Linked DNA regions of Homo sapiens: regions 2, 3, 4, 5 and 6 are each linked to region 1. The links come from fine-mapping of genetic effects on gene expression. A gene starts in region 1. Each other region holds a variant in brackets. All regions are shown on one strand. Distances are between the middles of the regions.

The links. PIP is the estimated chance that this variant, and not a neighbour inherited with it, causes the effect.
Region 2: its variant is fine-mapped to the expression of WWC3 in whole blood (TOPMed, PIP above 0.99).
Region 3: its variant is fine-mapped to the expression of WWC3 in cerebellum (GTEx, PIP above 0.99). The same link has a PIP of 0.9 or more in cerebellar hemisphere, cerebral cortex, esophagus muscle, gastroesophageal junction, prefrontal cortex and sigmoid colon.
Region 4: its variant is fine-mapped to the expression of WWC3 in whole blood (TOPMed, PIP above 0.99). The same link has a PIP of 0.9 or more in monocytes.
Region 5: its variant is fine-mapped to the expression of WWC3 in whole blood (TOPMed, PIP above 0.99).
Region 6: its variant is fine-mapped to the expression of WWC3 in whole blood (TOPMed, PIP above 0.99).

Annotation. Positions count from the first base shown.
Region 1 is chrX:10,013,195-10,018,301 of GRCh38, forward strand. It overlaps WWC3 (WWC family member 3), which reads left to right and starts at 2,060. Exons shown (of 24, transcript NM_015691.5): 1 at 2,060-2,479; 2 at 2,482-2,664. The coding sequence starts at 2,385. RefSeq lists enhancers at 175-1,058, 1,059-1,942 and silencers at 1,763-1,932, 1,973-2,032.
Region 2 is chrX:9,984,004-9,989,110 of GRCh38, forward strand. No RefSeq gene overlaps it. Among named protein-coding and RNA genes, the nearest start is that of CLDN34, 19 kb to the left of the region's middle. The variant C/G (reference allele first, on the strand shown) is at 2,837.
Region 3 is chrX:10,105,856-10,110,599 of GRCh38, forward strand. WWC3 (WWC family member 3) reads left to right here. Exons shown (of 24, transcript NM_015691.5): 10 at 3,923-4,165. Among named protein-coding and RNA genes, the nearest start is that of CLCN4, 49 kb to the right of the region's middle. RefSeq lists enhancers at 3,564-4,281, 4,282-4,744. The variant C/T (reference allele first, on the strand shown) is at 2,890.
Region 4 is chrX:9,955,263-9,960,369 of GRCh38, forward strand. No RefSeq gene overlaps it. Among named protein-coding and RNA genes, the nearest start is that of CLDN34, 9.5 kb to the right of the region's middle. The variant G/T (reference allele first, on the strand shown) is at 2,692.
Region 5 is chrX:9,844,366-9,849,472 of GRCh38, forward strand. The region is part of intron 1 of SHROOM2 (shroom family member 2); the gene reads left to right. Among named protein-coding and RNA genes, the nearest start is that of SHROOM2, 60 kb to the left of the region's middle. The variant T/C (reference allele first, on the strand shown) is at 2,527.
Region 6 is chrX:10,096,638-10,101,744 of GRCh38, forward strand. WWC3 (WWC family member 3) reads left to right here. Exons shown (of 24, transcript NM_015691.5): 9 at 1,869-1,942. Among named protein-coding and RNA genes, the nearest start is that of CLCN4, 58 kb to the right of the region's middle. RefSeq lists an enhancer at 1,747-1,796. The variant A/T (reference allele first, on the strand shown) is at 2,272.

The sequences.
Region 1 (5,107 bases):
TTCCCTGGCACATGCGACATCACAAAATATGTGCTTTTTTGACCCTCCCACTCTTTCCCTTGGACATGTAATAATCACACATGTTTAAAAGGACTCATGCGGTGGAATTTCTCACATAGAACATTCAGGTAGGGGTAGATAGATACTTGGGGAGCAAGAAAGTTTCTGTGTTGTAGTAGGAGGAGGGAGAGGAAAGACCTTCCTTGGATAGTTTTTTGGACGTCGCTATACCTTCACAACTTCACATTCTTCTTCTTCTTCTTCTTCTTTTTTTTTTTTTTTTTTTTTTTTTGAGACAGGGTCTCTGTTCCATCGCCCAGCCTGGAGTGCAATCGTGCAAACACGGCTCACTGCAGCCTCGACCTCCCTGGCTCAAGTGATCCTCCCACCTCAGCCTCCCAAAGTGTTGGGATTAAAGGTGTGAGCCACCGAGCCCGGCCCCACATTCTTCTAATTTTTTTTTTGTTGTTGTTGAGATGGAGTCTCACTCTGTCGTCCAGGCTGGAGTGCAGTGGCGCGATCTCAGCTCACTGCAACCTCCCAGGTTCAAGCAGTTCTCCTGCCTCAGCCTCCCGAGTAGCTGGGATTACAGGCGTGCGCCACCATGCCCGGCTAATTTTTGTATTTTTAGTAGAGACGGGGATTTCACCATGCTGGCCAGGCTCGTCTCGAACTCCTGACCTCGTGATCCGCCCGCCTGGGCCTCCCAAAGTGCTAGGATTACAAGCGTGAGCCACCGCGCCCGGCCCATTCTTCTTTTTTAAAACAACCTTTCCCCTCATAAAAGTAATATTACCATTTTACAAAAAATTGGAAGGCAAATCATTTTTAAAAATCCCGCCAAAGGAATGCAAACTCTTGTGAGCATTTCAGGACATTTTCCTCCAGTCTCTTCCCCTGTGTATCTGGATTTCAATCAGGCTCTACCAGATATTTTTGTATCACTGTAACTGTTTAAAAATCTCCCTGATACTGTCCTGCATTTCCTGGCATAACGTGTTGCGGCTGTGGGTCTGGGGCACGAAGTAGGTGGGAGATTTAGAGCAAGACACAGCCCCAACTCTGGAGCTTCAGCTTCCCCAGCTGGGAGCCAGTGAAACAGAAGTTCCCGTCTAGGCTGAAAGTTTTAGGAGTTGACCCGGCTTCCTCCCCAGCAATGGTCTACTTGGGTCTCCGCTCAAACGATCAGACCCCACAAACCGGATGAAGCGCTCAGGGAAGGTCAAGGAACTCCCGCCTAGTGTGGGCCCCCAGGTTAGCCCTTCTAGGGCTGTCCTGGCGGGGACGCAAAGTGGCCACCTGCCCAGCTGCCCGCTTCCAGAGGCGTCCTCCCTGCGCCGCCCGAGAGGACCGGCCGCGGGCTCCCCCAGCTCCTCAGCTCCCTCGGCCCCGCCTTCAGGGGCTTTTCCCACCTTCGCGGGACCAGACGGGTTGTGTGGGAGACCGAGGGCGCAGCCTCCCGCCAAGTGCGCAGAGGGTCTCCAGACAGCCAGAGCCCGGGAGCGGGTGAAGGGAGGGCACTGCCCGCTCTCTCGGGAATTGTTTGCGCCCGAGGAGTCACCCCAGGCAGGCCGCGCCCGCAGTCCGGGTAGGGCGTCGTCCTCCCCGCCCGCCTTCCTCTACGCGGGGGCCCGGGGGCGGACTGACGCGGCGGCGCCCATCCTGGCCTCCATGCGGTTTCCCGAGGCCGGAGGAAGGTGGCGGAGCGGGAGGGAGAGAGCGAGGAGCGCGCGGAGAGGGAGGACGGCGGAGGGGGAGGAGCAAGCGGAGGGGTGGGGGTGGGGTCGAGGAGCCGAGCGCCGAGGAGGACCCCGAGGGAGACTGGGGGCGGAGCAGCCGGCGACGGAGAGGCGCGGAGGACGCGGGGCCGGGGGAGGCGGAGCAGCGGGAGTGGGTGGAAAAGCAGAGGCGGCGGGAGGAGCGGGAGCCTCCGTGGGAGATTCGGGAGGAGCAGCCGGCGTGGGTGGAGCCGCCGGCGTGGGAGGAGCCGCGGGGCCTGGGTGAGAACGGGGCGGGACGGCCGGAGGCGGGGCCTGCGAACGCCCTGCCCCTGCTCGCCCGGGCCGCGCCGAGGAACGAAGATGGCCGGGCGCGCCGCGGGAACGGAGGGGCGGCCGGCAGCGGCGGCGGCGGCGGCGGCGGCTCCCGGGCTGTGACTTCGCGCGCGGCGGCCACCCGGGCTACCTGAACGGAGTGGGCGGCGCGGGCAGCGGCTTGCTAGGGCGGGCGGGCGGACGCCGGTGCACGGGCGCCGGGCGGAGGATGCGCCAGGAGCGGCGGGCGGCTCCCCGCGGCCGCCCCCGCGCCCCGGGCGCCGGGCCTTAGTGCTGGCGGAGGAGGCGGCGCGCGCGGGGCGGCCGGGCGGCGGCGGGGCCCGCGCCGTCATGCCTTGGCTGAGCGGCGGCCGGCGGCGACGGCGGGGACAGCCGCGCGAGGCCCCGCGGGAGCCGCCGCCTTCTGCGCAGCCCCAGCGGGAACCGCGCCGCCGGCGCCCCCCGCCGCGGTCCCCACGCCCCCAGCTCCTTCCGCGCCGCCGCCGCGGGCCCGGGAGAGCGCCGAGCTGCCGCTGCCCGCCGGCTGGGAGGAGGCGCGAGACTACGACGGTCGCGTCTTTTACATTGACCACAACACGCGCCAGACGTCGTGGATCGACCCCCGCGACCGGTAAGCGGGCCGGCTGGGGGCGCCAGACCCGGCGCGGGCGCTACGACCCGGGCCGCCGGCCGGCGCCACCGCGGATGCGCTGGGGACACGCCCCGCCCAGCGCGGGGCCGCCGCCGAGAGCCCCCGGGCCCGGGCAGAGCTCGGAGCGCCTCCATCCCCGGAACCAGGGGACTCCCTGGAGTGCTCCGGTCCAGGCTACGATCGAGGCGCCCCCATCCCTTGGGCCCAGGGAGAGGATCGGAGACACCAGGAGGCCCTCGGGGCTGGGTGAAGATCTTTGGTTCCGGGGGTCCGGGAGAGGATCCACCCTCCCAATACCCCGACTCCCAGGGCTCTGACCAAGAATGGAGGTGCCCCTTCTCCAGGCCTCGAGCCCTCTGAGCGCCGAGGCCGGCCGCCTACAGGTCCCCCGCCGCTGGGCGGACCCTCTCATTCGGTTCCCTCACGTCACCCGCTGTCCGGCGCCTGGGAACTGGGCTCCTGGAATTTCCTCTCCTGGGGCTGACAGATGGCCCTCTTTTCCTTTCTCTGCGGCAGCCTCGCCCATCCCGGTCCCGGGCGTCTGCGGCCCACTGCCCCGGCCCTGGTTCTGCAGGTGTCCCCAGCCCCGCGGTGGCGAGATGAGCTGTCACCTTGGATCACAAACGTGCGCCCCAGCTTTGGGGTGCGGGTTCCCTGTCTGGCGGGTTCAGGCTGGTTTCCATCCAAAACCTGATGTCAGACGGGCCCTTGAGGGATTCCCAACCCTTTTGGAGTTGGAGAAGTCTGTTCCCAAACTCTAGTTGCTCTTTAGCGCCTTAAAACTCGTGAGTTAAAACTGTTTGAAATAGCCTTCTGTACTGCAGCCAGAATGCAATATGATTAGTCCCATATGCTTTTGGAATAAACGAAAAACAAGAATTGTATTTTAAGTTTCCTTTTTGTGAAAGATATGCATGGGGTACAAAGCTGTCTTATTCACGTATAAAAACCCAATCAAGTAAAAACTGATTCTTGTAAAAGCACTATCAGATTTCATTTAATTAATTCCATGTAACGAAGCTCTTCCTTAACTTTTTGCTCGATTGTCTACGGGTTTCGATTGTTCAACTGCTTTTACAGAGATGTATTTTGTGTGGAATTGGGATTTCTGTGGACATCAAGTGTTTCCACAGGTTATCTGATGTCTTGTCCTCTCTAGAGCAACTCTCCTTCCAGGGCCTGAGTGCCAAAAAGGAAACACCACAGGCTTCCCAGTGATTTGAAGACTTGCAAAGGCCCAGTGTGGTGACATTGTGCCTGCTTCCTCCTACCTGCACAGGGAAGGCGGCCTGCATGGCACTGGCGTCTGAAAATAAACTTTTGAGGAGAGAAGCTGCTGAATTGTTTGAAGATTTCTCTGAGTTCAAGCAGGGGAAAACAAAAGAAAGCAAAACAAAAAGATCGTGATTCCCTAACATTCTCGCTGAACATTGCAAACCTCTGGGCTCAGAAACCTATATCAATCCTAGTACAATTTTATGGGTTAAAAAGATGCCTAGTTATTTTGAAAATCAGGTGAGATCATGTTATAATTTTAACCAAAGGCTAGAGCCCCAGCTGTTTGATCAACCCTTGGATGGTTCTGGAATTGGTAGAACTGCTTGGAATGCAGTGCCCTTTTATACCATATGTATGTTAAAAACCCAAACAACTGGAAAATGAACCAATTAAAATAGTGTTTTGCTTAGAAAAGGCTAAGGCTCACTTTCCAAGGGTAATATAAAACAGTTGTGGTTATATTGGAGTGGAGATTCATGCTGAAAGATATCAATGTGAGGATTTTCTTTTTAATGGTGTAACCTGTGACAAACGTGAATGGACCATACAGAAATCAGCTTGGAGAATCTTGTTTTCCATGTATTTCAGACACATTTCCTATATTCCTTTTTTCCAGAAATCGATTTGTTACTTTTCAGACAATCACTTAAAGGTTTTTAAAAAGTCTCCGTTCTGATGCTAAAATTGTCAATTGAGTCAACAAAAGTGGATATTTTACCTTTTTTTTGTAAAGTAAAAACGTGTGTACTTTTATGAGACGTTGTTTTTATAGTGAGTGAAAATTCAGCAGGGGACAGCTTGAACTTCAGCTCCCATAATACCTTGCCCGAAATATGTATGGAATGTTCAGCAAGCCACAAACATTTAAGTGGAGTCGGCTGAAGGCTGTAATAGTCATTCTTCTTCCTCTTTCAAAACAGAACCTGGCCGAGTTTTATAGGTGGCGGGTTACCCTTTAAAGTTGTAATTAACTTTTATTATATGGGAAGAACTGCATGTCAGAGGGCAGTGTTTTCTCCATGCGCATCTGACAGTTAAAACCCTTTTTGAGTTGCTTTTGAGTCACACAGGAAAATGGTATTCAAGAAATACGAGGACTTTCACCAAACAGCTTCCACATAGAGACCTGACAGGAGAAAGGCAA
Region 2 (5,107 bases), 29 kb before region 1:
ACAACAGGACTGGCTCGTTAGATTGACATCTTGACGGATTCGCCGCAGTTCGTGCCAGCTGGTCTGCAACCATTAGTTCAGTCCTTTGTCAACCAACCAGAATGCAGCTGCTTATTAAATCGGGTTACTTGGTAACTGGGCTGCTATTGTTCACCCTTAACTAACGCAGATGAATACCTACCATCAAAATAGGCCCAATAGAAAACCTGCTGCCAATACAGAGCCAGGTGGGAGAACCAGCAGATTGAGACAGGTATGCAGGCTTGGGAGAATTCTTGCTGGTTATAAAAGGCATGCATTTTAGCAATTTTATTTCCAAAAGGTAAACAGTTTGGGATACGGAGTTATTAGACATTAGAGTCATCTATCACGGTTTGTTTTTTTTTTTCCTTTTCTTTTTTTCTTTGAGACAGAGTCTCGCTCTGTCACCCAGGCTGGATTGCAGTGGTGCCATCTCGGCTCACTGCAATCTCTGCCTCCTGGGTTCAAGCAACTCTCCCTGCCTCAGCCTCCCGAATAGCTTGGATTACAGGCACACACCACCACACCCGGCTATTTTTTGTATTTTTAATAGAGATTGGGTTCAGCCATGTTGGCCAGGCTGGTCTTGAACTTCTGACCTCAGGTGATCCGCCTGCCTCGGCCTCCCAAAGTGCTGGGATTACAGGCATGAGCCACTGCGCCTGGCCTGATCAAGTTTTTAAAAAGAGTATTTCTTCACTTTTAATTATTTTAAATTCTCTTTAGTATTGTCTCTTCCAGGGTTTGGTATCTGTATCTGGTTCCATCATTCCTAAACCTACCTTCAGAGAAAACATCTAATTAATTACCCACACCTTCCATTAAAACCAGAGATTGGGATCATTTTGAATTAGAAGAGACAGACCCTTATGATCCCACAATTGTGTTCCTTGGTTTTTATCCAAATGAGCTGAGAATTCACGTCCACAGAAAAACCTGCGCACAGATGATTATAGCAGCTTTACTCATAATTGCCAAAACTTGGAAGTAACAAAGATGTCCTTTGGTAGATGAGTGGATAAACAATGTGATACATTAAGACAATTGGATATTTTTCAGCACAAAAAGAAATGAGCTATCAAGCCATGACAAGACATGGAGGAACCCTAAATGCATATTTCCCAGTGAAAGAAGCCCATCTGAAAGGCTACGGACGGTAAGAGTTCAACAGTGTGACCCTCTGGAAACGGCAAAACTATGGAGACAGTAAAACAATCGGTGGTTTCCAGGGGCTAGAGAAGAAGGAAAGATGAAGAGGGGATTGCAGAGGATTTTTAGGGCAGTGAAACTATCTGTATGCTACCATAATGATGAACACATATCATTGTACGTTTGTCCAAATCCATAGAATGTACAACACCAAGGATGAACCCTAATGTCAACTATGGATTCTGGTGACGATGACATGTTGATGAAAGTGCCCTGAGGGATTGTTCACAGACCTACACCAGGAAAAGAAGTTTCTGCTCATGAATGCCACTCTGGCTCTCAACCTGTGCATGAGTGAGATCCCCACAGACGGGAGCTCACAGTTCTCTTTCTGCCCCCATTAACCTGGAAGGAATCTGGCCTCAAGAGGTGGGCAAGATTGGATCAGGCACCAGAGGCCTTGGCGGTCATTCTTGTCAGGCAGCCTTGCCAAGCTGGAGGCAGAGGCTGGTGACAGGTGGGACAGCAATTCCAAGGAGAGGTGGTGATGGCCCAAATCAGGGGCATGGCAGAGCCGTGGGGAGAGAGGAAGAGAGATGGAGGGGCAGCAGTGCCGGGATGTGGGGGTTACTGGGAAACAGAGGACAAGCAAATGCGGTGACCGGAGGGGACACCTGCACTTCTCCGTTGGGCAACTTCCCGTGCTCACGGAGGCCTCTCATGTTGTTCGTAAGCTACTGAGGCAGTGTGTGACGAGATGCTGAAACCTTGGCTGGTAAATGCACTTCAGGCCTTCAACTTCCTGGCTACTACAGCCGAGGTGGGGTTTGGGTAGCTGTGAGTAAGCCAGATGCGACGGACCGTGTAGTGATAGAGTCCTCACTGAAAGGTCCAGAAGAAATCCCATAAGGTCATCAAACCCAGGCTCTGAATGGAGTTCCACTAGGACACAGTGGGCCCGTGGATGGTAACTGTCACATCCACAAGGCTATTCCTTGTGGCACAATCTTCGTCATAGGATCATTGAAACAGCTGAACTTGGTGGGAAGAAATCGGGAAACAGCTTTTGTTTTCCTACCACTACCTTGCAAACACGATGTGGATGAACCTTGAAAACATGATGTCGAGTGAAAAAAGTCAGACACAAAAGGCCACAAATTGTACAATTCCATTTATATGAAATGTCCAGAGTAGAGAAATTCATAGAAACAGAAAGTAGATGAATGGTGGGCAGGGGCTGGGAAGAGGGGAATGGGGAGTGACTGCTCATGGGCACAGGGGTCGTTTTAGGAGGGACAAAAATGTTCTGAAATTGATGGTGACAATGGTCGCACAACCTTGTGAATGTACTAAAAACCACTGCATTGTATGCTTTACACAGGCGAGTTGTACAGTATGTGGATTATACCTCAGTAAAACTGGTATATATATATATATATATAAAGAGAGAAAGAGCGAGAGAGTTCCACATTAATTTCCGATAAGCACCCTTTGTAAACTAAAAAAACAAAAGACACTTCATTCAATGCTGTCTATCTTAAACGAACACTTAAATATATCTTTAACGATGAAGGATTAGTACAGTTTTTTCTAACCTTGGAGTGGTGGGGGCCATTTCAGGATCGCCTGTGGGGCCTTGTTCAAATCCACCCTCCCCCCAGCAAAG[C/G]ACCCCCTTCACTGACCCTGGTCTTCCCACACTTGTGAATCACTACATTAGAAGAATTCCCTGAAAATAGGGAACCAGACTTGAAAACTTGTCATTACCAAAGTTACGTAAGATTGCTCTGGAAGTTCCTTTTTTTTTTTTTTTTTTTTTTTTTTTTGAGACGGAGTCTCAGTCTGTTGCCCAGGCTAGAATGCAATGGCGTGATCTTGGCTCACTGCAGCCTCTGCCTCCCAGGTTCAAGCGATTCTCCTGCCTCAGCCTCCTGAATAGCTGGGATTACAGGCGTACACCACCACGCCCAGCTAGATTGTTCTGGAAGTTCTAGCCAGGGTGCTGTAAGTCAGGAGACAGAGAAAAGAGGTATAATTATCCTAGAAGGGTGTGTGAATCTTTGTTCAGCTAAGTTGACCCTATACCTAAAAAAAGTCCAAGAAAAGTTATTACACTACAACAGAAAGTTCAATTATATAGCTGGATACTAAATACACAAACATCAACAATCTTTTCGTGTTCCTACACAATGAGCCAGTTTGAAATTAGAATTGAAACAGAGTACTTTCACACAAAAAAGCAATAAACTCCCAAATATCTAGCAATAAGCTTAATATGAAATGTGCAAGACCCTGTATGTTGCAAACTGCTCAACCTTAGTAAGAGCCAAAAGAAGCCATGGAGACATGTCCCCAGTCCCAGATGGGGAAATTAAATTTTGCAAAGTTGTTCCACCTTCTGAGATTAATTTGTTGGCTTAATGTGATGCTAAGCAAAATGTTTATGAAAATCGGCAAATGCAAAAAATGAGCAAAACCTGCATGTATTAAGATTGTTACAGTTTATTAAGTGTAAAGTTTATATCCAAAGAAAACCAGTGTAAACACATATCAATCTCTAGTTAGTGGCATACTTGCTGAAAACTTAGGGGGATGTGTACTGATGTCTGCAATTTACTATGAAATGTATGAAAGAATAAGATGGATTGATGGATGGATAGAGGGATGAACAAATGAATAGGTACATGAAAAAGACTATAGTAATCTGCCTCTTATCAGAGCAGAAAAATGAATAAAAAGAAAAAGGAAAATACAGTAGAATGTTAATGAGAGAATCTGGGTGGTATTTGAGTTGTTCGCTAAAATTTTTTCAACCTTGTTTAATATGGGAAAGTTTTTGGCTGGACACAGTGGCTCACGCCTGTAATCCCAACACTTTGGGAGGCTGAGGCGGGAGGATCGATGGAGCCCAGGAGTTCAAGACCAGCCTGGGCAACATAAGGAGACCTTGTTTCTACTAAAAATTTTTACAAAAATTAGTTGGATGTGGTGTTGCATGCCTGTGGTCCCAAATACTCAAGAAGCTGAGGGAGGAGGGTCTATTGAGCCCCGGAGTTAACGGCTGCAAGGAGCTATGATCACGCCACTTCACTCCAGCCTGAGTGAAAAAGTGAGACCCTGTCTCAAAAAAAAAAAAGGTTCATAATAAAATGGGAAAAATACAGAGCAAAGAACAACAAAAACCAAAATGCATATAAAAGAAGATTCCAGCTTGAAAAATATGAGCTGGATAAAGATGGGGTGGAAATGGGCTAAAATGTTAACTATGATGAAATTATAGGTGATTTTTATTTACTTGTTCATACTCCATGCATTGATTGAGCTTTTTCTTTCTTTTTAAAAACAATATCCAAGTACTACTTTTATTTTAATTTTTTTAAACAGGGTCTCACTCTGTCACCCAGGCTGGAGTGCAGTGGTGTGATCTCGGCTCACTATAGCCTCAGCCTCCCGAGTAGCTGAGACTACAGTCATGTGCCACCATGCCCGGCTAATAGTTTATTTTTTTTTTTGCAGAGATGGGGGTCTCACTTTGTTGTCCATGCTGGTCTCGAACTCCTGCTTAAGAGACCTTCCTGCCTTGGCCTCCCAAAGTGTTGGAATTACAGGTGTGAGCCATTGTCCCTGGATCAGGAGTTGCTTCTTATGGATGAGCAAAGAAAGTAGTTTCTTAAGACACAATCTCCTCCTGGTGAAGATGTTGTGAACATTATTGAAATGACAACAAAAGATTAGAATATTCCATAAACTTAGTTGATAAATTAGTGGGATTCTTCCATTTCTCCACCAGGTGACAGCATAAGCACGTCAAAATAGCAAAAATTGTCTCAGAACACAGTATTTGGTCTGACATTGAACATTACTGCTGTTAATTGACTAGGTGTTTATTTTGACATGTTACTTGCACAAAGGATTAGAATATTATGTCAACCTAGTTGAT
Region 3 (4,744 bases), 92 kb after region 1:
TCTAGATTCAGACTTCTCAAACTTCTGACATAAAGAGTTGAGTAGAATGGACGCTGGTTTAGTTCAATCAGCTGAAGTGATTTCATTGTCCATCTGACTTACATCTCAGCTGTTTTCTTTAACCTTTGCTTTTTATTTAAATGGGTATTTACAACAAGAAAACTAAGAGAAAATGTAAGGAGTATCGAACCTGTAGCCGTAATTGCAATCTGAAGGTATGAGGCTCTAAGCTGACCCCGCGTCCTGGAATGTGCCATTGGGATCCCTCACGACTCATCACCATGGGATAGGACCGTGGGCTGTCCAGAGTTCTGCTTGCTATTCCAGAAAGCAGCAGGATTTTAGGACCATGAGAAATGATATTGTAGACTGCAGATTTTTGGTATAAATTCAAATAATTAGGGATTATTCTTGATATGCCTCAGAACTTTTTATTATTGAAAGTGCATTGTTTTCCTATAAAAATGCAAATCGTATTTAAGATTTTCATGTGAATTGTGAGAGTCTAAATAGTTTCTGCGGCATAAATGCATGGTTTAATGGTGCCTGGGTTGTAACAGAAAAGTGTTTGAGCAAAAATCATAAGGGAAAAATGATTCATATTTTATGTCTGTCTACATTAGACCTGCTCAGGGAATAGAATTTGGGAAACACATAATAAATAAGAAACCTGCATGCTTGATTGAACATTTGCTTTCTTCACTATCAGGACACGGGGGCATATATTTTAAGGCTTTTAAAGGCATTTGGGAGAGATTTTATATAGGCCATAAAATGCATTACCCCTCAAAAATAAAAATCACTGAAGAATATAGTTGGCTCACAGAAAAAAAAAAAAATCCTCTCTAATTTTAAGCTGCTATTAGTTCTCTTTACAAAAAACTCGGGAAAGTTATTTTGTTTTGCAAACTTTAACCATGACCTTGCTTTACTTCCATGTATTTAATTTCACTGAAATGATATTTCAAAGAAAAGCCTTTCTGGAAATTGTTTTTCCTTTAATACCCAAAATTGGAACAACAGCACTCACAGGAGCGAGGCTCCAACCAGTGGATCAGCTGTTTGGCGTGGATGTAGAAGAAGGTGCATTGAAACTCAGTACATCTGTGTTTAGCCTTAGGCAGGAAGTCTGTTTCTTCAAGTAAACCTAACGTACTAAAGATACTCCCTGCAGATGGCTCGTTTCCGGCCCACGGCAAGGTAGACAAGTCATACGGTTTTAAAGGCAAAGCCGTCTTGTCTGTCTCATGGGGACATAAGAACAATCGATTGTTGAAGGAATCCTAGTGCTTTTGGCTTCCAGTACAGACAGACAGACAGATGTGCCTCTCTCGACCTTGCTGAAGCAGGCCCCAAATGTTCACACCTAGAACATGGGGACAAAGAAAGAAATTGAACTTTTCAATATGTTCCAGTTTCTTCTAGATTCATATATAGCTCTGAAATGAAGATGAGATTGTTTGCATTGTTGCATTGTTTTGAAATTTTATTATTAAACCCCACAATTGGAAGGCACAGAAATGTTTGCCTAGCATTCAGCACAGCCCAAACATTTCCAGATGGGTTGCAGATTTTGTTTCTGCTGGAGAGGTCGTCCCTTGCCGTTTGTCCTTGCATATTTTTCCTGCCAGCTGTGGGAAGTGACAGGACATGGTTTAATTTGGGCTGCTGTTCTGTTTCTTTATGCCTGCAGCAGACAGGTCTTTTGAAACTCACCCTTTGCCTCTCCTCCCTCCTATAATTCATTTTTTTCCTCATTCTTTTTTTCCTGACAGTGCATATTACTTGAGATTTTCCTGGAAAGGTTGTGATTATCTGGAATTGGATCTTCCGCCACCTTCAACAGCTTGAATCCTTGTAGGCTAGCAGCTAACCTAGAGCTGGCAGACTCAAATGGAATCTTGATCTCTTCATATTTAAGGCTCAGAAAACTCAAAAGGAGTGTTCTGTAAAATACTTCTGTTTATATTATATGTATGGTAATTAGTATGAGTATAAAATGGTCGGGCAAAATTTAGCTGGGCTCAGACTTTCCTGTGGATCAGATAAATGGAAATGAAAAAAAGTATGAGGACACAGATTTGCTGATTGTTCTTCATCTTTTATATTTATTTCTTAACTTGTCTTGGTCTACTGTAGAATGTTCCAGAAATGTCATTGGGTATAATGTCTGATTTAGCACTGACTTATTTGTGGGTTTGCTTGGAGTGTATTTTCCTTGGGCTTTGGATATATGACTGCCATAAATTTTAATTACACTAATTAGACGTAGGTGGATGCTTAAGCCCAGTTGGAGTCCTAGCCCTGTTCAGCTGCCTCTGTCATTAGTTTTTCTGGTGACATGGTTTGGCACCATCTTCCAACACGTTTTCCAGACATTAGTTTTAAGTTAGAAAATAACTTGTCTAATAAAGCTACTGACATTCAACTAGTGTCTTTACCTTGTTGAAGTGGACTTGAGTAAAATGCATACATTTAAACTGTAACTTGTGTACCCGTTTCTTTCCTTAACTGTGGGCTTTCAGATTCGTTTGGTGGCTAGAGAGGGAGTCATGCCCGATCCTCATGAGTCCATGTGCTCGTGTCTAGTTTAGGTGGAGCCTGACTTGGCACAAGGCTGGGTGGCAGGTTTTAACATGTGTGGCAATGCTAGTCAATTGGGGATATCCACATGGCTCATAGTGTAGAGAAGGCTTCTGAGGTCTAGACCCAGCAGGTGGGAAGCCAGCCTTGGTTAGTGCCGTGGACCGCGGGCACAGGAGGAGGCAGTCTCAGGAGCACCTCTGCCCTGCATCTCCCTCGGAGGATATAGGGCCACGTGTGCCTGCCACTTCCCTGTTCTCACAGCTCTTTGTGATCTCAGAGAAGCCTCTGGATTTTGTTTTTGGG[C/T]GAGTATGCCAACTATGTCCTCCACAGCATGGGGTTCAGGTTGAGTTTGCCATTCCTAGTTTCTCCCTAGAAACATATCCCTGATCTTTAACCCTACTTAAAGGGCTTAAAACATTCTACTCTTACTTTTAAAGGATGCTTTAAAAATACAGGCCACATCTGTTTCACTTAATCTGCATTCAACAGCACCTCATGACACAAAAAGTAATGCAGTCTGTTTGCCAAGCAAGCACTTGGAAATTTCGAGGCATGGAAACTGATAGGAGCCTCTGTTTTTCCACCTTGAGGATTGTTGCGCTTTGCATCCACCCAGATCATCTCTCACCAGCATCCATGCTCACAGGGCTGCCTCTCTTCCTCTCACATATTTGCAGGCGTGTTTGTTCACTGTTCAATGCACTCAGCTTTTGTCGAGTGCCCACTTGCTCTCCGCAAGGTGTTTTGAATTCATGTATGGCCAGGGGCTCTGGTGCAGGAAGGAGCACACAGAACCAGAAGACGCGGAGCATGGGGCTTCGAAGGTCTTTCCTTCAGGACGCCAGATGATGAGTGCATTTCTCCTTTGTTATTTTGCTAAAGCGGCTGACAGTGGTTAGACACAGCTGAGGAGGCGGGAGGCCGGCAGCACTTCTGGGGGTCCAGCATGCTGTTTAGCTACTGATGAGGGTGGGCAGAAGAAACAAGCAGACTCCCTCCTGCTCTGGGACAGTTTCATGTAGGAAACCAGGAGTCTGAGCCGCCGAGTATGGGCATGTTGAGGGCTGCTGGCCTTTTTGTCAGTTCTTCGGAACAGGCACGATGGGGTTATTTTCATCTCGAATCTCAGGCTAAGGGAGCTTCAGGAAAAGACTTCTGCACCATTTTTTAGGACATTGTTTCCATATCCTTTTAAGTGTAAGGGTCACTTGGTGTAATCATTTCACTACTTATTTGGCAAAAGGAGTTTATAGAATCAGTGTGAGACGTGGAGAAGGTGTGAAGACGGCGTTTTCAGTCCGCCGATGTCCTTTTTTCCTCCCCGTCTCTCTTGCAGAGTCGCCAACATCCAGCAGCAGCTGGCCCGGCTTGACAATGAGTCCTGGCCAAGCACGGCCGAGGCTGACAGGGACCGGCTGCAGCTCATCAAGGAGAAGGAGGCCCTGCTGCAGGAGCTTCAGCTCATCATTGCACAGCGCCGCTCTGCGGGAGATGTGGCCCGGCTGGAGGAGGAGCGGGAGCGCCTAGAGGAGGAGCTGCGGCGTGCACGGGCCACCTCCGCACAGGGCGCCACGGAGAGGTGGGTCAGCGGGGACACGACCTCCAGCGGAAAGCCTGCTGGAAAAACTCCACGGGGTGGCTTGTGTGTGGCTGGAGGGTGTTCCTGATGATCACTCAGAGCCTCTCCTGCCTGGATGTTCCCTGGCCTAGGAGGGGCATGCGGTGGGGGGCACTGCCTTCTGCTCCCTGGGTCTCTGGAGCCTCTGCTCCGAAGCAGGAGGTGATTGACAAGGGGGAAGGAGTGAGGGAAGATGGGTGACCTCCATCTCCGCCCACGCCCCACCCTTCCTGAAGTTGGTGCTTGGTGCTTCCACCTGCCTTTGTGGGACAGTGCCCTGAGCAGGCTGTGGTCCCGCTCCGGCCCGGGCAGCTCTGTTGCATGGGGGAAGAATTCCCTGTTCCTGACGTGGTGAGCATGGTGGGTATCCACCTACTGCTTTCCTCTCCAACTTTGATTTCTAGCCAGGAGAGCCTGCTCTTCTCTGGCATTGGGAAGCTGGCCACCTGTCGTGCGTCTGTCCTGAGGCTCCTTCACCACGCAGGACATGCAAAGCCAGCATAGTGGCTTTGGTATTCGGTGGCACTGAGTCGTTCAGCC
Region 4 (5,107 bases), 58 kb before region 1:
GACCTCACTCTATTGCCCAGGCTGGAGTGCAGTGGCACAGTCACAGCTCACTGCAGCCTCGATCTCTCTGGGTTCAGGCAGTCCTCCCGTCTCTGCCTCCCAAGTAGCTGTGACTACAGGCGTGCGTCCCTCACCTGGTTAATTTTTCTATTTTTTTGTAGAGATGGAGTTTCATTATGTTGTCCAGATGGGTTTCGAACTCCTGGGTTCAAACGACCCTCCCAAAGTACTGGGATTACAGGTGTGAGCCACCCTGCCCAGCCTACATATTAATTTTGCTTTTGAAAAGGGAAAGTTAAGCGAATGAGAACTGGGTGTCGAAAGGATCCAGAGATTAAGATGTACACATCGAGATCCCCAGCCTGGTGGTGGCGACTCCATCGTAAGCCTGGAGTGTTTCTCCACTGACTTGACACAAGTACATCCAGCTGCCCTATCTCAATAGTGAGTTGATTTAGAGCAAACACGTCCTGTGAAGGAATTTTTAGACATTTTTGCTCTATTACAGCTCATTATGTAGGCATTTAAAGAGAGCTCAAGAATATGTAGGAAAAAATGTTTCTAAAAATTCTTTGTTTTCTCTGGCATTTCCTAAGTTCTAAACTTTAAACTTTTTCTTCAGAGAGGAATTTATTTTTATACCAATGACATTTGATTACTCAACTGGATATACTTAAACAGCTAAACATTCTACCAGAAGACTGACGTCCTTGTTCATATCCGATCATATATAAATACTGGCCTATGAACAAAACTGGGGAGATGTGTTACCCTTTTTTTGTTATTTATTTTTTTTAATTTAATCATTATTATTGTTGTTATTATTATTATTATTATTTTTGAGATGGAGTCTTGCTCTGTCACCCGGACTGGAGTGCAATGGTGCGATCTTGGCTCACTGCAACCTCCGCCTCCCAGGTTCAAGTGATTCTCCTGCCTCAGCCTCCTGAGTAGCTGGGATTACAGGCACGTGCCACCACGCCCAGCTAATTTTTGTATTTTTAGTAGAAACGGGGTTTCACCATGTTAGCCAGGATGGTCTCAATCTCCTGACCTTGTGATCTGCCCACCTCAGCCTCCCAAAGTGCTGGGATTATAGGTGTGAGCCGCCGCGCCCGGCCCTATTTATTTATTTTTTGTGGCCCATTCTAATCAAAGGAAGAAGAAAAAAAAGAATATAGCATGCAGGGAGAGTTTCAAATACGAAAAACCCTGAGTGTGAATATTTTGTTTACATTATTCTGCTCGTGCAGAATTTTCAGTCTTAAACTATCGCCTGTAGAACGGATATTTGGAATTAGAGTACTTTTTAAACTATTACTGGCATGAGCCTTTCTTCTTAAATTGATTCAAAGGACTCAAACTATTAGCAAATATTACATGTTGTCTTAATCCGTTCAGGCTTCTATAACAAAGTACCATAGACTGAGTGAATCATAAACAACACAGAAATTGATTTCTCACAGTTCTGGAGGCTGGAAATCCAAGATCAGGGTGCCCCTGTGGTCAGGTTCTGGTGAGAACCGGGTTGTTGGCCTGGTTGTATCCTCACATGGTGGAAAGAGAGCAAAGTAGCTCTCAGGCCTCTTCTTATAAGGGCGCTAATCCCATTCATGGGGAGTTCTGCCCCCATGACCTGATTACCTCCCAAAGATCCCACCTCCTAATACCAGCACACTGGGGTTAGGATTTCAACATCTAGTTAGGGGATAAGGGGGGCAAACATTCAGTCCATAACAGTTGTCAACTTTTTAGCATATATAAGAAAAGCATGTTCAATTTTTTTTTCTTATTTTTGAGAAGGAGTTTTGCTCTTGTTGCCCAGGCTAGGGTACAATGGCGCGATCTTGGCTCACTCCAACCTCCGCCTCCTCGGTTCAAGTGATTCTCCTGCCTCAGCCTCCCGAGTAGCTGTGCCACCAGGCCCGGCTAATTTTGTATTTTTAGTAGAGATGGGGCTTCACCATGTTGGCCAGGCTGGTCTCGAACTCCTGACCTCAGGTGATCCACCCACCTCGGCCTCCCAAAGTGCTGGGATTACAGGCGTGAGCCACCGCACCTGGCTTCTTCAATGTTTTTCTAAGTTTGATTGAAAAAGAAACCAAAATGGTATTTATGAATTAGAAGGGAGAGATGTAGATCTTAATGTATATGACAGCTATAACCTAAAGGTTGCAAGGAAAAGGACACACCTAGTGGTAAAGTTGCTACATTCCTCTGGAAGTAATGAAATATTAATTCTGAATAGGCTATGGACCGGGCACAGTTGCTCACGCCTGTGATCCCAGCACTTTGGGACGCCAAGGCAGGAGGATCGCTTGAGCCCAGGAGTTCAAGACCATCCTGGCAGCATGACAAAACCCCATCTCTACTAAAAATACAAAAAAATCAGCCAGGCATGGTGACCTGCACCTGTAGTCCCAGCTACTGGGGAGGCTGAGGTGGGAGGATCACTTGAGCACAGGAGACAGAGGTTGCAGTGAGCTGAGATTGTGCCACTGCACTCCAGCCTGGGCGGCAGAACCACGCCCTGTCATAAATAAATAAATAAATAAATAAATAGTTTTTTCAAAATAGGCAATGAAATGCCTGTGTATTGTCATCTCTAGAACAAGCACTTAAAAACTGTACAAAGAGATTCAGACAACTCAATAGATAACTTTCGACCTTGCTCAGATAGCCCAAAAGAGG[G/T]CAGTAGAAGGGAAGCCGCAACAACAACAACCAGAAGAAACAAAACAAATATTAAAATAGCAGACCTGCCTGGGCGCGGGGGCACACACCTGGAATCCCAGCACTTTGGGAGGCCGAGGTGACAGGATCGCTTCAGCCCAGGAGTTCAAGACCAGCCTGGAAGACATAGGGAGACCCCGTCTCTACAAAAAAAAAAAAAAATTACCTGGGTGTAGTGAAATGTGCCAGTGTTCCCAGCTACTAGGGAGACTGAGGCAGGAGGATCACTGGAGCCCAGGAATTGGAGGCTGCAATGAGCCATGATCACACTACTACACTCCAACCTGAGCGACAGAGTAGACCCTGTCTCAAAAAAGAAAAATAAATTCTCCAAATACTGTAAAAAAAAAAAAAAAAAGGAAGTGGCTATTTCTGCTCTCCACATGAAAATCTGTTATATGACAACACTTGGAGTTCATCAAACACTTGGAGCCCAGTGGGAGCAAGACTGTACAGCTACCTCCCTCCAAGTTCAGATTGGCCCTCCTGCCTTCTGCCACAGAAGGGGACTGGTGGTCTGGTGATTATGGGCGGCGGCGGTGAAGGGGGTAATTGGGGGCATCGGATATAGATTCTCAGGCACTATTTCTACTGACAGTCCCCCGTACTTCCCCCGCCGACACCCCACTCCCTGCAGAAGCACCTGGTACCACAAAGAGTCTTGCTCCTGGCAGGTCTGCATCTCAGCCTTCTGGTCTACCCAGCCAGTTGGCATTTGTCTATCACCTTTCCTGCTACCAGGATCTTTTTGGTAAATCATCTGCTGTGTTCTCTGAGGGTTAATGCCTCTTTTAAGCTGTTTCTGTCATTTTAGTGGGCTTTGAGGAGAGGGTGTAGTTAAATGCATGTGTGCATTGCTTTTTTTTTTTTTTAAAAAAGATAACCAATAGTGCAGAAAAGCACATAAACTTGTCACATTGTAGGACACTGAAGAACAAAAGAGATCACATAGAATTCCCCAGCCAGTCAGGAGTCTGAGACCAGCCTGGCCAACATGGTGAAACCCCGTCTCTACTAAACATACAAAAAATTAGCTGGACGTGGAGGCGGGCGCCTGTAATCCCAGCTACTCGGGAGGCTGAGGCAGGAGAATCGCTTGAACCCGGGAGGTGGAGGTTGCAGTGAGCCGAGATTGCACCACTGCACTCCAGCCTGGGCAACAAGAGCAAAACTCTCTCAAAAATAAAAAATAAAAGAATTCTCCAGCCAGACATAGGCAGTGTGTTAGTGTCCTATTGGTGCTGTAACAATTTACCACAAACTTAGTGGTTTAAAATGCCACATTTACGCATTACAGTTGTGAAGGTCAGAAGTCTGTAATCTGTCACGCCAAGCTAAAGTCAAGGTGTGAGCAGAGCTGTGTTCCTTTCTGGAAGCTCCAGGGAGAATTGGTTTCTTGCCTGTCTAGTATCTGGAGGCCACCCCATTTCTGGTCTCACGACCCCTTCCTCCATCCGCAAAGCCAGCAGTCTAGCGTCTTCCAGTCTCTCCCTGACCCTCCTTCTATCATCTCATTTCCCTCCCTGACCCTCTTGCCTCCCTCACACAAGAACCCTTGTGATGACACTAGCCCACCTGGATAAGCCGGGATCATCTCCCCACATCTGGATCCTCGATTCCATCACAGCTGCAAAGCCTGTTTTGCCATGGAAGGCAACATAGCCACGTACCCCCTTCCTTCCTTCCTGCCCTCCCTCCTTCCCACCTTCCTTCCTTCCTTCCCCCATTCCTCCCCTCACTCTCTCCTTCCCTCCGTCTTTCTCTCCCTCTTTCCCTTCCTCCCTCCCTCCATTCTTTTCCTCCCTCCCTGTCTCCTTTTTCCTTTTGCTTTTTTTAAGGAAACAGGATTATATAATAATATTTTCGAAATCTGCTTTTTACTTAGCAGTATTGGGAACGTTTTCCTTAATTATTCTTCAACATAGTATTGAATTTTGGTGTGATATCCCATTATAAGGATATAAAATGGTTTACTGAACAGTTCTCTAAGTGTGGTTTTAGGATTTTGCCTTTTTGTCCCAGTTGTAACCTCAGTTACAGAGTTCATTGGGTGTGCTTTGCACTTAGATCTTTGCACACATCTCTGCTCATTTGCTCAGAATAAATTCCTTCTTATGGAAACCCTGTAAGCAAAGGAGTCCGGTGGGATTTTGACTTCCATGTAATGTTTAGTCCTACATACTGGGTAGCTGGCATCGTTTGCCTTTTGGCAGCCTCATTTCTTACACAGGTTCCATTTGAAGCTGTCCCCAGTCTTAGCAGGTCAGTTTCACACACTCCGCATCTTCCACTTGTCTTACCTACCGAAACTGTTCCAACAAGCCTGTAATTCAAGACTTAGCTAGAAAAAGGTCATTTCCCATGAACTAACAGTGTC
Region 5 (5,107 bases), 170 kb before region 1:
GCCAGGCATGGTGGTGTGCATCTGTGATCCCCTGCTTGGGAGGCTGAGGCAGGAGGATCACTTGAGAGCTTGGGAGGTCGGGGCTGCAGTGAGCCATGATCACACCACTGCACTCCAGCCTGGTCCACAGAGCAAGACCCTGTCTCAAAAAAATAAAAAAATTAAGGCCGGATGCAGTGGCTCATGCCTGTAATCCCAGCACTTTGGGAGGCCAAGGTGGGCAGATCACCTGAGGTCAGGAGTTCGAGACCAGCCTGGACAACATGATAAAACCCTGTCTCTACTAAAATTATAAAAAAATTAGCTGGGTGTGGTGGCGGGTACCTGTAATCCCAGCTATTCGGGAGGCTGAGGAAGGAGAATGGCTTGAACCCGGGAGGCAAAGGTTGCAGCAAGCTGAGATCGTGCCATTGCACTCCAGCCTGGGCAACAAGAGCGAAACTCCATCTTAAAATAAATAAATAAATTAATTAATTAATTTAAAAAATGGTAGATTTCAAAATAGTGTTTGAAAGTTCTTGGCGAATTGGTGTGCTCCTGCGTTCCTCTCAACTCCCACTCTTGCTCAGTTGCCTACCATCACCTCCAATCTCCTGATGCTGGATTTGCAAGTTAAAGTATTTCTCTAGCGTGGGAGTTGGCAAGTGTCTTCTGTTAGGAGCCCGTAAATGTTTTCTGTTTGGGCCACTTGTTCTCTGTGGGACTCCTCAGGGTTGTTGCAGTAGCAGGAAGCAGCCACAGCCAGTGTATACATGAAGGTCGTGGCTGTGTTCCACTAAACCTTTATTCACCAAGCAGGTGGCAGGCCAGGTTTGGCCCAAAGGCTGTAGTTGGCCGACCCTTACTTTATTGCAGAAGTGTATACTGCCAGGACTTTTTTCTTGTTTTTGTTTTGCTTTGTTAGGGAGTCTGGCTCATTTGGCCCATGTTTATGGGGCACTGACTCTGTTGTTTAGCAAGCGCTGTGTTGCTAAAGAATGTTTTCGAGAGATTTAGACCCACCCAGTAAACCTGAACAAGAAGCCAGCCTGAGCAGTTAGCCGGGGTCACAGTTCTCCATAACTTCTCCCCCTGCTTCCTGCTGGAACAGCTCACTTTTGAAATGGCAGGGGAGTCATTCCAAGCTAGCATCTCCCATCCCACCTTGTCACCCACCCCCACCCACCTTTTTGTTTTTTCTGGAAAACAAATAAAGGCTTTTATTGTATCTACTTGGGCAGGATGAGGGGAGTGGTAGTTCCAGAGACAAAGGACTCAGAGCCAGGACCTGGCCCTCACCTCTGCGCACACCAGCCCACACTGGCTCCCGTCACCCTCCTTTCTGTCCGTCTCTGCTCCTCTCTGGTCTCACCCCGTCTGCTGCAGACAGTCCCTCTTCATGAGTTGAGAAACATAATTCCTGGCAGCTGCAGTGTCGCAACCCCTTCCTCTACATTTTGTGGAATGAACACAGCTATGTAACTCGCTACCCAGATCAAGAGATGGAACATTCCTATTTATGTTTTAGGAATGTTCTAGCTCCCCAGGGGTGCCCTTGAGCCTCCCCAACCCCCCAAATATAGGACTGTCTTGAATGTCCACACTATAGATGAGGTTAGCCTCTATTTGGCCTTTATATAAATAGCATCATCTAGTATGGACTCTTTTGTGTCTAGCTTTTTCAGTCAACATTACTTTTGTGAGATTCATTCATATTGTTTCTGGTGGCAGTTGTAGTTTATTCATTTTTGTTGCTGTGAACCTCAGTTTGTTTGGTTTTGGTTTTGGTTTTTGAGACAGGATCTCACTCTGTTGCCCAGGCTGGAGTACAGTGGTGCCATCAGGGCTCACCGTAGCCTCAAACTCCTGGGCTCAAGCCATCCTCCTGCCTCAGCCTCCTGAGTAGCTGGGACCACAGGTGCATGCCACCACGCACAGCTAATTCTTTTATTTATTATTATTATTTTTGAGACGGAGTCTCGCTCTGTCACCCAGGCTGGAGTGCAGTGGTGCAATCTCAGCTCACTGCAACCTCCGCCTCCCGGGTTCAAGTGATTCTGCTGCCTCAGCCTCCTGAGTAGCTGGGACTACAGGCACGTGCCACCACACCCAGATAATTTTTTTGTATTTTTAGTAGAGACGGCGTTTCACCGTGTTAGCCAGGATGGTCTCAATCTCCTGACCTCGTGATCCGCCTGCCTCAGCCTCTCAAACTGCTGGGATTACAGGCATGAGCCATCACACCCGGCCAATTATTTTATCTTTTATAGACATGGGGTCTTGATATGTTGCCCAGGCCGCTCTCGAACTCCTGACCTCAGGCATGAGCCACTGCCTCCAGTCTGTGTGTTTTTCTAAAGAATTCTTAGTGGCTAAGGAAGGTTAAGACCTTCCTATCGTCTCTTTCATCTTTCCCCAGAGATGAGCCATTTTGAACATGGATTTGGCATCTGTGCCGCCTCTGAGCCCATGCTTGGCTGATCTGTGGTTGGCGTCTGCCTTCCAGAGAATTCCTTGTTTTCCCACAGTCCCTTTGCAGCTGTTTCA[T/C]GGAGCACGGGGACGCATGCTGGCTGCTGCCACCAGCTCTGATGGCTATGAAGGTTTGAGACGAGTCTCATAGGTGAAATCTGGGCTCTAAGACAGCCCACCTTTTGAAAGGACAATTCAGCCACCAGAATATCATCTTCGATCTGCTGGTTTTCTCATTTTGGTTTCCAAAAGCCTTTAGCCATTGTTATTATTCCGTGCTTGTCTTGGTGTTAGCTCAGTATCCATGAAACCCGACAAACCTCTTTCTAGAATGAGGCCGGCAAACCAGTCTCATAATGTTCAACCCCAGTGAAGAGGAACTAAACCTCAAAATTGTTGTACCACAAACTCTATTGGCCTTTTATTGGTGGGGATTTTGTTTTTATTACAAGAGGGGTGACTGCTACAGTGGCCTTTCCGGCACCAGGCCGTGCCTGACGGATGAGAATGCTGTGTCATAAACAGTCTTTTGCAATGACTAACCGTGCTGGGTTGGAATGCAGTGCACACCAAAGGAAGGTAGGACTTTTAGTGGTTGTCACAATAGCTGTGCGAATCCAAATATGGCTGGAAAATGTCAACATACTCTCCAGATTATCAGCTCCGACGAATGTAAGAGACATAGTGTTAGGGGGATGTCTGGATAAGTTGAACTCTAATCAGAGGGAAAAGGGGGTTGGAGGAATAATGAATGAGGGAAACACTTTTATTGGGAGAATAGCTTGCAAAACGGCCAGTTGCATAAAGTGTCCTGTCCTAAGAAGTCCTAGTGTAAGCCTCGGCCAGTCCTAAAATATGAATGAGACCTAGGACTTATTTTACGTATTGCTGTTATCCTTACTAGCACTTTTGGAGTCTGCATTCTGGTAATGCCTAAATGCTTGTGCTGAGTTACATGTGGAAACAGCTCTACACAACATTCCCTAGTCTCTTGGACACTTACAGTGTTGGCCAGTCCTTTTCTCGTGATTTTTTCCCTCTGATTTACTCGTGTTGTAACAAAGTTATCACTTTTTTATTGTTTCTCTTTGCTTTCATCCTTTGCATCTGTGGCTGCTCACTTGCTATGCCCAGGGAAGGGGAAGATGGAGAAATAGATTATGGATATGGCACTCCAGGGCCTGTTTACCAACAACCTGAAAAGCTTATATTCTCAGCAGGTCAATACTCCCCATGTCTGAGGGCGAATGTTGTGTGGATTAACAGGCAAAACATGTTGCATAGATTTGCAGATCCACGTTTACAGATTCCCCACTGTATACTGAGGCCATCGAGGAACCTGAATTTGTGTATCCCTTGTGGCTATTGATATGTTGCTGAAGTCAAGTCAGGTATGTATTGAAAAGCATGGCCGGGCGCGGTGGCTCACGCCTGTAATCCCAGCACTTTGGGAGGCCGAGGCGGGTGGATCATGAGGTCAGGAGATCGAGACCATCCTGGCTAACAAGGTGAAACCCCGTCTCTACTAAAAATACAAAAAATTAGCCGGGCGCGGTGGCGGGCGACTGTAGTCCCAGCTACTCGGGAGGCTGAGGCAGGAGAATGGCGTGAACCCGGGAAGCGGAGCTTGCAGTGAGCCGAGATTGCGCCACTGCAGTCCGCAGTCCGGCCTGGGCGACAGAGCGAGACTCCGTCTCAAAAAAAAAAAAAAAAAAAAAGAAAAGCATGTTCTAAGTATCTAAGTATTTAAGTTCTACATGTCTAGAGATAAAACTCTCTTTATACGGGGATGTGAGGAGAGGAACTAGGAGGAGACTTTATCATGTGCTGATTTATGCTCTGCCGGTAATGAGCCATGCAGCCCTAAGCATGTTACCTCATATCTCTGGGACGAATAAAGTGTCTGTCCTTTGGCCAATTTTTTAGCTTCCCGAATCAGTTTATCGACAAGATGGGGACATGCAGGTGTATCTGCCAGGGTTAGGGGAAGCTCTCAATAGTAACGTGTGCTGAGAACCAGCTGGTGCCCTGCGTGAGTGCAGCGCTCCGTGAAGAACATTGTGTTATGAACTCCTGGGATGCCTGGATTCCCTTCCATTCATCCACTTTGTTCACCTAAAGGGCCAGAGCAAACAACCGTCCACTCAGGTAAACATTCCCACCCCAGAGCGACCGTTTGCATCCTCCAGGAGTTAACAGTACAGCTGGACTCACCCGTGGGTCTCCTGGAAGGCACTGTGTCGGAAACCGAGCTTCTCTCCTGCTTCCCTTGCTGTGGCCTATCTGGGAATCTATAGTCTGGAGCATCCCAGGGCGGCCTCCTTTGGCAGATGGTGTAGGAGTGCTGCAAGCCCTCCTGGATGCACCCAAGGACCCAGGAAGATGGGAGCGTGGATCTCTGTGCCTCAGCACAGAGGCTGGGAGGAGAGACAGCAGGCGCCGGCTGGCAGGAGCAGTCCATGTGGGAGCTTCTGTGTACTCCCACCTCTGCTTCACCTCCTGTTGATCTCTCCTCCCTCTGCAGCACATTCTGCCCTCCTTCCCCAGACTCCTCCCCACAGTTCGCCCTGAAACAAACCTTTCCATGGGATTGATTTTAGAGGCTGCCCATGTGGGACCAGGGCTGCAGCTTCCCTATGGGGGTGCTGGTGGCCTTGTG
Region 6 (5,107 bases), 83 kb after region 1:
TAAAATGTCCATTTAATTCTCAAAGAAGAGTACAGAAACAAAGCTTAGAGAGAGGTGCATACAGCTTTGAGAAGAGGTTTGAGAGATGATGTTTACTGATCTTGATGAGTTGATTGCAGGGTCACTAATAAAGAGGGGACTGAAATGGCAAGTAGCTCATCTCCACTGTGGACAGCTTTTGGAGCTGTGGCACTGCCACTTAAATATATTTATACTGAGGAAGCTGGAGAGGAGCATTGGATGAGGCCGTTTAAACATGTATAATTGTGGCCAGGCACAGTGGCTCATGCTTGTAATCCTAGCACTTTGGGAGGCTGAGGTGGCCAGAGGTGGCCAGATTGCTTGAGCCCATGAGTTGAAGACCAGTCTGGGCAACATGGCTGGGCAACCACCTGGGCGTGGTGGCTCATGCCTGTAGTCCCAGCTACTTGGGAGGCTGAGGCAGGAGGATCGCTTGAGCCCAAGGGGTTGAGGCTGCAGTGAGCTGTGATTGTGCCACTGCACTCTAGTCTGAGCAATAGTGCGAGACCCTGTCTCAAAAAAAGAAACCATGAACAATTGTCATTCTGGTTGGAGAATGCTCAGTCCCTTGTAAGGCACTTTTTCATCTTGCCATTCAAGGCAATAAATTTGCGAAGACATTTTTCATCAACATAGATCAAAACTCGTGTCGATAAATTCACTGCTAATCATTCAAGTTGAATATTTTCAGATACTTGTTGATGGGAAGTTATTTCAAAAATGTAAAGACTTGGTGGCCATAATATGTGATCTAGTAAGGTCAGATCAACAGATGGAGCTGATTTATTGAAACTGGAGTTGTGTGAATATTTGCAGGAATGAGGAATTAACCAAAATGTACTACAGTTACTTCCTGTACATGTCTTTTTTTGTTTTGTGTAGGATTTTATTGTCATCAATGTAACTGGTACAAAAATATTTAAGTATATCTACTCGTCACAGAGCACCGCATTTAGGCTAACTCTATATTGGTACTCCCCGAGCTCTGGCTTTTTGAGACCTTGCTTGCTTTCCTTTTGCCCTTGGTTCTTTTTTTTTTTTTTTTTTTGAGACGGAGTCTTGCTCTGTCGCCCAGGCTGAAGTGCAGTGGCTCAGTCTCGGCTCACTGCAAGCTCCGCCTCCTGGGTTCATGCCATTCTCCTGCCTCAGCCTCCCGAGTAGCTGCGACTACAGGCGCCTGCCACTACGCCCGACTAATTTTTTGTATTTTTAGTAGAGGCGGGGTTTCACCGTGTTAGCCAGGATGGTCTCGATCTCCTGACCTCGTAATCCGCCCGCCTCAGACTCCCAAAGTGCTGGGATTACAGGCGTGAGCCACCGCGCCTGGCTTGCCCTTGGTTCTTTAACACACCTCGTGGCATCAGAAGGCGTCCACCAGCCCATCCGTCACACAGCTAGTCCAGCTTCCTCAGACCGTGGAGCTTCTGAGTAGAACATCATTATTTTACGTTTACTGAGGAATTAGAGAATGTACTGCACAAAATCGGGTGACTGGTTTTTGCCTTTGTATCAACTTTTACTAAGTAATTTCCTACTTCTTTTAAAACCTAATTTGTGGTTGTTGTTTGGAATTACAGAATAGATAGATATGCTGCTGCTGTAAAAAAAAACAAAAAACCCTACCAGTTTAGGCAAGCAAGAGTCTTCCCTTCCCCCTCCCCCCTCCCCAGCCAGGGGTGGCCGCAAAGGGTTATTCAGTGTTTCCTTCCAGACCTTGCACAGATTGAAAGTGAAAGAGATGAAGAATATTTCTCATTGCTGCCGAAAGTTTAAGTGAAGTTGCTATTTTGGAAATATGTTTTTAATATGCGTTTCCTTTCTTTTTTTCTCTCTTCTGTTCCGGAAAGTTTGTCTTTGATGATAAAACAAGACTTGTAGACCGAGTCAGACTTAATTGGCAATATGAAGAAGCCAGAAAGAGGTAAGAAGCACTTTTTTCCAACCTCGCCTTCTGCTTACTTACTTACTTTCTCCTGTGGAAGGAAGCGTGGCATAGTTCCTGTGTGTGATTGGTCACGTCTCATCGGAGAACAGCGTTTGATAGAATACCAAGTCAAGGATCTTCATTTACGTGTAGCTTAATACATACATATGACAACATTTCAAGTGCATTTAAAATGTGAAATTTGCAATATTACAAACAGTTATACAGACGTGATTCCATAAGAATAGAAACTTTTTTGGCTTTGTCATCCCCGGTGGTTCAGAACCTCTACCCCTCCTTCCCTTCCCTCCTTCCAATAGACGAGC[A/T]TCAGTTCCAGAGGGTGTCATAAGTGAAACCACTTGATCTTTTATATGTGTGGCTTCTAACTCCATAAGCTAATGGGCAAAGCCATGTATCTTGGTTATAAGACATTCAATAAGCATTAGGTCAACAGGTGAGCAGTACCTAATTGATTTCATTCCATTTATGTTGTCCTGTGTCGTAAACCATTGGCCTCCTGCAAATTGCAGCTTGACCCACTTTGTGCACTTGTGTTTCTCTTTCCTCACTTCCCTCCCTCCCTTCCAGTCTTCATCCTCTGACATGCACAAAGCTGAGAGGCTTCCGAACCCTCGCATGGCATAGTATTTTAGGGCGTCACGTGTCTCCTCAGCTGTGCAGGGCTCCCGTTTTCAATATTCTTCTCCTCTCTGACTTTTGTATTCTCTTTTTAGGGACTTTCTCTAGTTTGTGCCTTCTGGAAAGAGTCTTAAAGCCAAATTATTTCCAAATAAGTGCTTCAGAAGAGTATCAAGCATATCTTTTTTAAAAAGTTACTTGAGTCACAAATGAAATATTGTCATGGGGGGCGGGGAGAGCAGAATAGCAGAATGTCGGGTGGGGTGAGGGAGTTCTTTCTGGAAGCTAAACAGTTAGGCCTGCTCAGCACACTGTACCATTCATGGACGTCTGGAAAGCTACTTTGTTGGCTTTTTAAAAAATGTAAAAATAGCAACAAAAGCACATCATATGATTCAGTGCTCCAGGGCCAACTTAAACGGACATGGGCCTTCTGTTTTCTAGGAGGTTTTCTAACCAGTGCCTCTTGGCTTTTTAGGATGGACTCGTGGTGGGCTTTAAATTTCCCCACAGAACAGTGCCAAGTTCATTTGGCAATACCAGTTGTCTGTGTGGTGATTCTTCATTATCATGCATATTCCTTCTCTGTAGCCTGCAAGAGTTTGTGAGGAGCGATTGTCTCTTCTGAGTATTCGTCTGCTCTTGCCTGTTTCTGGTGAAACTGCGGAGTGTGGGTGCTGGAATTTGCTACACTTAGGAACATGATTGTTACGTGTTTGGTTGTGACATTTACCAAACATAGCAAGTGATTTCTTTGTTTTCTAGAGATGGTGCCAGTATATGGTGAGTAACCTTCTAAATGTTGGGATAATACATTTGGGTGAAAAGTCGAGTATTTAAGAAAATTGTTCAAGGGGCAGGCATGGTACTTCATCAGTTCTTTTGAATAAAATACCATATTATTTCAAGATGGCCAGAACCTTGTTAGGAAACGCACCACAGCTACAGAGGAAGGTCCACCTTCCACTGACAGTAGCGGCATGTCAGAAGTGCCTCTGTGGGCTGTGTTGGAGCATTTAAAAATCAGAGATTTCTTTTAAACTCCACCTGGGTGGGCCTGCACAGGTGCTGCCTGTCCTTTTCCCACTAGCATAGTGGGGCTCCACACAGGGAGCAAGGCCTTCACCCTCCAGGAGACCTCCAGCAGTGTCTGCAGACATGTTTAGGTGTCCCAACTCTAGGGCAGGGGCCAGGGAGGCTGCTTGACATCCTGTTGTGTACAGGATGGCCCCCGCAGCAAAGACTTACCCGGCTCAGCATGGCCGCGGTGCCAAGGTCCAGAAACCTCGCCCTGGGGCTTCTTCCTGTCTTGCTCCTGAATCTTCACGATGCATGGACAACAAGGGGCCTACATGAGCAGGTCGCCTGCTGACTCACAGGCATCAGCCTGCTCCCCACTCACCCTGCTCCAGCCAATCGGCCCCTCGATGTTCCTCAGATGTACAAGCACGCCTGCACTGAGCAGCCCCTCGGGCCTCCCACCGGGCCTCAGTCCCACCGAGCCAACTCCTGACCTAGCATCTGCAGCTGGCAGAATGATGGTCCGTCAAGGTGTCTGCATCCTGATCTCCACAGCCTGTGAAGATGTGGCTTTCCATGGCAAAAGGGACTTCGTGGATGTAATTAAATTAGGGATCCTGAGATGATGGGGAAATGAGCCTATATGATCCAGGTGGGCTCAGTGTCATCACAAGAGTCCTCATAAGAGAGAGACAGGACGGTCGGCAGTAGAGAAGGAGATGTGAGGTTGGAATCAGAGATCAGAATAGTGTGGGGCCAGGAGCCAAGGAGCACGGGCAGCCCCTAGAAGCTGGAAGGTGCAAAGAAACAGATTTTCCCCTGGAACCTCCAGAAAGAACGCAGCCCTGTAGACCCATTTTCGACTTCTGCCCTCTAGAACTGTAAGGGAATAATAGGTGTTGCTTTAAGCCATTAAGCTTGTGGTAATTTGGGGCAGAAAAGAGCAAACTCATACAGTGCCCTTGGCCTGTTCTGTCTTCTCTGTCTGGAATGGGGTGGCTTTTCTCCAAATTGTCACATGACCTCTCCTTTTGATCACCTTGTTAAGAGAGGTTTCCTTGACCATCCTGAATAAAACCTCACCACCCTGTCCTCACCCCGGTCCCCCTGATTGGCTGAGCAAATGTTATTACCTAACCAGTGTTTACTTTTCTTACTGCCTGTCTCTCCCTGTGAAAATGTAAATAACCCTCATGAGTGCAGGGATTGTAGGTCATTGCTGTAAGCCCAGCAGCTACATACTTGGTGAATATTTATTGAATGAGTAAATGAGGGTCCCGTGTGGTTGCATTTGCTATTTGGCCTTTGCCCCTGGGACGGGGCAAGCCAGGGCAGTCCCGGGGCCAGGTCAGCTCCAGGCCAACTGCTCTGCTCCTGGGTCCCTTCCTCAAACCTCCATCCAGGTGTGAGCCTTGGGGTCTCTCGCCTTGACTTGAGAAGGGAAAGGGCTTCAAGACATGGGTGCCTTTAGGGATCTGAGGTAGGCAAGGAACTGTCTCTCCC